Linked DNA regions of Homo sapiens: region 2 is linked to region 1. The links come from fine-mapping of genetic effects on gene expression. A gene starts in region 1. The other region holds a variant in brackets. All regions are shown on one strand. Distances are from middle to middle.

The links. PIP is the estimated chance that this variant, and not a neighbour inherited with it, causes the effect. A credible set is the group of variants that fine-mapping cannot tell apart.
Region 2: its variant is the best candidate, but not a certain one, in a credible set for the expression of CORO2B in fibroblasts (GTEx, PIP 0.80).

Annotation. Positions count from the first base shown.
Region 1 is chr15:68,577,844-68,580,343 of GRCh38, forward strand. CORO2B (coronin 2B) reads left to right here and starts at 1,150. Exons shown (of 12, transcript NM_006091.5): 1 at 1,150-1,434. The coding sequence starts at 1,420. RefSeq lists an enhancer at 1,338-2,205.
Region 2 is chr15:68,622,100-68,625,109 of GRCh38, forward strand. All of the region lies in intron 1 of CORO2B (coronin 2B), which reads left to right. Among named protein-coding and RNA genes, the nearest start is that of CORO2B, 45 kb to the left of the region's middle. The variant C/T (reference allele first, on the strand shown) is at 1,648.

The DNA of each region.
Region 1 (2,500 bases):
TCCTCTCTGTTCCCCCAGCACTTTCCACAGAGCAGGTGCTCATATATGACGTTGCCTTCGCTGTCCAGGTGAATTGCACCGGTAATTACCGTGGAGCAGGAAGCCAGCACTTCCGGGCTTGCCAGGCTGTCCTGCTTGGAGAACCCCTCTGCTTCCACCTCTGCTAACTCCTCCCCTCCACCCTCTCCGCGGTTCTGTATCTGCGGAAACCGGTTCTGCTCAGGTGCTTGGGAGGGAGACTCCTTTCTCAAGACTTGCGAGGTCACCTTCAGGTGACTGTCCCTCAAATCTCCGCAGCAGCTCCAGGACACACTGTGCCCCGAGTCAGGATTGGATCAACACACAGGACGCACCTGTGTTATCACTCCACCAGTAGAGCGGCACTCAGTGGTAGTGTAGACAGTCCTAGGGCAGGGCAGCTTCTATAACAAGAGGTTCCTTAGGGAGCTAGCGGCCGAGTGGAAAGAGCGGGAGGAACGGCTCGGGCAGGCAGGTCCTGTGCTGTGGTCTAAGTCACTTCCCACGTCCGTCCCACTCTGATCGTCAGTTTCCTCCTCTGCAAAACTCACTAAGGCGGCCTTCGGGCAAGTCATCGCGGCGGGAATTAGATTCGAAAGAGTGCTTACACAAATCCGTCTGGCCACCCTGTGCCCCGGGCCAGCGCGAGGTGGGGGTGCGGGCAGGGCTCCCGGGCTTGCGGCTGCCACGCCCCTCCCAGCCCGCCGCGCCACACTCACGGCCCACGGGCCGACTTTGCGAGCCTCCAGGGGGCGAACCCGACCGCCTTCTTTGCCCGCGCAGCGCCTCGGCCGTCCAGCCTGTGACTTCACCAGCGTCCCCGGGCCAGCGGGACACCCGAGAGCCCGGGGCGCCGCCCGTTCTCCCAGCCGGCAGGTGCCGGGAGCCAGCCTCGCCCAGCCGCGTGGCGTCCGCAGGCCCGAAGGGGTTAAGGCCGCGGACCCGGGCGCCCGTCCGGACTCCGGGAGCAGCGGTGCCCGGCGGCCGGCGATCGAGCGGGAGGCTCGGGGCACGGCCGCTGGCGGGCTGCGCTTCCTCCTCCTCCTCCCTCCGCCTCCTCCTTTGTAGCGAGTTCCCGGCCCCTCTTCCTCCCCCCGCCCCCCAGCCCGGGCCCTCTCCCTCTCTCCCTTTCTTCCTGCCTCGCCTTCCTGCGGCGAAGGAGGCTCATCTATTATAAATGCACATTCGGGGCTGACATCAGCGACGAGCGGCGGGCGAGCGCCGACGAGCGGTCCCTGCGCGCTGCCCGCCCGGAGCGCAGCCCCCAGGCTCGGCCGAGCCGCCGGCGGGGCGCGGGGAGCGAGCCGGGAGCTGCCGGACCCCCTTCCGCCGCCGCCCCGGGCCGCCGCCGCCGCCCCCGCACGCCGCGCCCGCGCCCCCGCTCCGCCGCGGAGTTTCTGCATGACTGTCACAAAGGTAAGCGCCGCTCGCCCGCCGCGCCCGGGACCCGCCGGCGCCTGCATCCCCCGGGCTAGGCTGCGGGGGGCGCGGGGGTGTGGGTGTGGGGAGGGGGCGCCGGTGCCGGGAAGGTGCGGCGCGCGCCTCTCTTGCTGCCGGATCCGCTCGAGTCACTCCGGCCCCCAAGGACTGCGGAGGCCAGGGGGAGGATGCCGCTCTGGCAGCCCCGGCGGTTTGGCCAACATCCCTCCGCGCCCGGCCCAACCCCGGGACTGCATTTTTAACCCTTGTTTGGGATGCTGCATTTTTAACCCCTGGAGAGCTGGGCTGGGCGGCTAGCGGTGTCCCTCCAGGGAGTGCGCGGCGGGAAGCGTCGCTGGCAGGGGCTGGTGCTGAGCAGTGGGTGTGGGGATGGGCCTGCCGCCCCGAGGAGGCCAGCGGAGGGGAAACCCCACCCCACCTGCCAGCCTCTGCCGCCCATGCCGGGAGCGCTGGCTCCACTCCAAAGCCACTCTGTGCAGAAGGCGCTGCCCAGTCCCGGGAGCCGCTACCAGAGACAGGGCAGGTCCAGGTGGTTGGCTTGAAGATGTGGGGAGGGAATGTGACAGGGGAAGCAAAGGTGGGCATCTTGGCAGCCCCCATATTGGAGGATGATTGTTGGGCCTTGTCATAGGGGCCCACGTTTATTGGAGAGACTTCAGGGGCTTCCTAGTTGTAGGGAGGAAAGAGTTAAGAGGAAAGATGATGGGGCAGTGGAAAGTGCCAGGGTCAAGGGACCAGGGAGACCTGAGTTCAATCCCAGCTCTATCCCAGATCCCCTGGATGACCTTGGTCGGGGAGGGGTCCACTTTGGGCCTCAGTTTCTTCTTGTGTGCTGTGAGGGTGATAATATGGGTCCTGGGTTGTGACAGGCTGTTAAAGAACCAATAACATCAAGGGTGTGAACCCACACTCTTCAGAGAGATCTGTCTGGGTACTGAGCTCACAGTCTGGCGGTGGCCTCGGGCTTGGCCGTCCATTCAAGGGCCAGACTCCACCCTTTCCAGCTGCCCAGCTGGGTCCCAGAATTGGGGAGCTGGAGGCC
Region 2 (3,010 bases), 45 kb after region 1:
AAATGGGGATAATCTCTTTTGCTTAGGAGTGAGAATTAAATGAGACGAAGTTGGAGAAGGACTTAACCCATAGCCAGGTTTGTAGTGGGTGCTCGGTACATTCACGACAATTGTGGCAATGCTGCTGGGTGAGTGACTGCATGTGAAAATGGAGTGTGTGGGGGCATGGGCATGTTTTGAGACTGCCCAGCTGGGTGGACTGTGTGACTGCAGTGTGAGGATGTGAGGGTTGGTTGTACATTCCCTTGAGCGTGAGCTGACTGGGGAAGACATGCCTGATGCTGTTGAAGGCCATGGGGATTTGGTATGGGGTGAGCTAGCCTATAATTCACTCTGAGTTGGAAAGGATTCTCCAGTGTCATTCAGTTCGACCTGAACCTGCTATATGAGTCCCATCCTTGACATCTGTGCTAAGTGACCTCCAGTTTCTTTAATTGCCTTCAGCAATGGGGAACTCACCACCTCCCAACACAGCAAATCCTATCGTTGGACCTCACCGACTACTCATTAGAAACAGAAGCAGCTCAGCCCTATGGAGCACCTTCAGAGTCACAAGATTCACCCCCACACCCCATTCATTCATTCATAGATATTTGCTGAGCACCCTTACTACCAGATACTATTCTGAATCCTGGGGATGCAGCAGAGGACCAAGGCAGACACAGGCTCTGTCCTCTCAGAGTTTACAGTTTTGTTGACCTTAACTCACAACACCCCTGTGAGGCAGGCAGAAGAGATTAGAATGATTCTCATTGAACAGACTGGGAAACAGGCTGGTGGTGGTGATGGTGATGGCTGATATTTATAGATACTTAGCACGTGTCTGGTGCTTTGTATACTTTAGGGAATCTAATCTTCATGTCAGCCCTAGGAGGTAAACCCCATTAATATCACCCCTCTTTTAAAGATGAGAAGCATAGCTGGGTGTGGTGGTGGGCACCTGTAATCTCAGCTACTCTGGAGACTGAGGCAGGAGAATCACTTGAACCTGGGAGGCAGAGGTTGCAGTGAGCCGAGATCACGCTACTGCACTCCAGCCTGGACAACAAAGTGAGACTCTGTCTCAATTAAAAGAAAATAAAATTTAAATTAAAAAAAGATGAGGAAGCAGAGAAGTGATATTGTTTGCTTAGGGTCACACAGCGAGGAACCGGCCCGGCTCTTTTAAGCCCGGGCCCATGCTGCCTCTTGAATCAAGTCATTGAGACTCGCCAGAGCAATAGAGCAGGGGCCTTGACTGAAGCTGCTGGATGCAGACCCTGGGTGCTTTGCACCACCATTGGAAGGTCATGTGGGAGCCCTGGCAGTGTCCATGCATGTGGAAGCCTGACGTGAGTGACAGCCAGTCTGGCCCACCCACAGCTGTGTTTACACCACCTCCTCACCCCCACCCCACCCCATCCCATCCCAAAGAGCCAGAAGTGAGTGAGGTCAGCCTCTCCCGCCCTGCATGTAAACAGAGGCTGGAGGACCAGGAGTCATCTCAGGGCAGTGCGGTTGACTCCTGGTGGGAGAAGCCAAGGGCAGCTTCAGGTTCCTTTGCTCCAGAAATCCTGTTGGGCGTCTCCATCCCAGCATCCAGGAGCCTGTTGCTCCCAGGAGCAGCAGCAGCGGGTGGGAGGGCAGGCAGGGCTGGGTGAGGATTAC[C/T]GCATGCTGGATCACGGCTGCTGGGTAATCCCCGTTTGTGCCACTTGCAAAGCATGAGGTTGGAGGCGGGTGTGTTTGAGCAGCCCCAGCCCCTCCATTGTCGACACCACGGATTACAGCAGCTTCTCTCTGCAGCTGAGCGTGGGTCGCACAGACTCCTTGACTGCTGTGTTGGGAAGATGCCCTTTCTAATTCCTCCTGCTCTCTGCCCAGCCCTCCTCAGCTCAACCTCCAACAAGAAGGAGGATTTTCAGCCCTAGAGACTGGGTGATGGAAAGAGACTTGAGACAGACTTAAAGGACTGGGGTGGCGGGTCCTGCTGTCTTGAGCAGGTGACCTAACCTGTAATTCTGTCTCCTCATCCCATAAATGAGGATAAAAAATAAAGCCAGCTGCCCAGCTTAAGTCAGGTAATCCATGTCAGGGTGCTCTGTAAACTAGAGGCACCACTCTACCAATGTCGGCTATTAGAATCAGCCATGGCACAAGACTTGCAGTGGTGTGAGACTGCAGTCCCAGCTGCTCGGGAGGCTGAGGCAGGAGGATCCCTTGTGCCCAGGGAGTTTGAGGCTGCAGTAAGCTATGATCACCACTGTACTCCAGCCTGGGCAGCAGTGAGACCATGTCTCTAAAACCAATGACAACAACAAAAATGATATTAGAATCAACAGTGAGCACGACTACCAACACAAATAACAATCGTGATCAGCACCACATGAGTCTGTGAAAGGTACTGTTCACAGTGTTTCCTCCAGCCTGGAACTGATATTAGGAACTACCGTCCCTTGGGCCTAAAACTAATATATGATGTATTAGTTGTGCATTCAAATCACCTTGGGGGCTTTTTAAACATCAGACCCAAGAGTTCCTGGGGTCCATGCCCAGAGATTATAATTCACTAGATCTGGGGTGGGGCTGGGCATCTCTGTTTTTTTTTTTCTTTTCTTTTCTTTTTATTTTCTTTGAGATAGAGTCTCGCTCTGTCACCCAGGCTGGAGTGCAATGGCATGATCTCGGCTCACTGCAACCTCCATCTCCTGATTCTCTTGCCTCAGCCTCCTGAGTAGCTGGGATTACGGGTGCCTACCACCACGCCCAGCAAATTTTTGTATTTTCAGTAAAGATAGGGTTTTGCCATGTTGGCCAGGCTGGTCTCGAACTCCTGACCTCATGATACACCCACCTTGGCCTCCCAAAGTGCTGAGATTACAGGCATGAGCCACTGCACCCAGCCATGTCTCTGTTTTTAACTCCAGTGCTAGTGGTCGAAGACCACTCCTGCCCAGAGTCAAGGACACTGCAGGACAAGTGACTGTATGCCCAGGGTCCCTTCCTCTGCACCACACTCGGCTGTTCCTGAGCC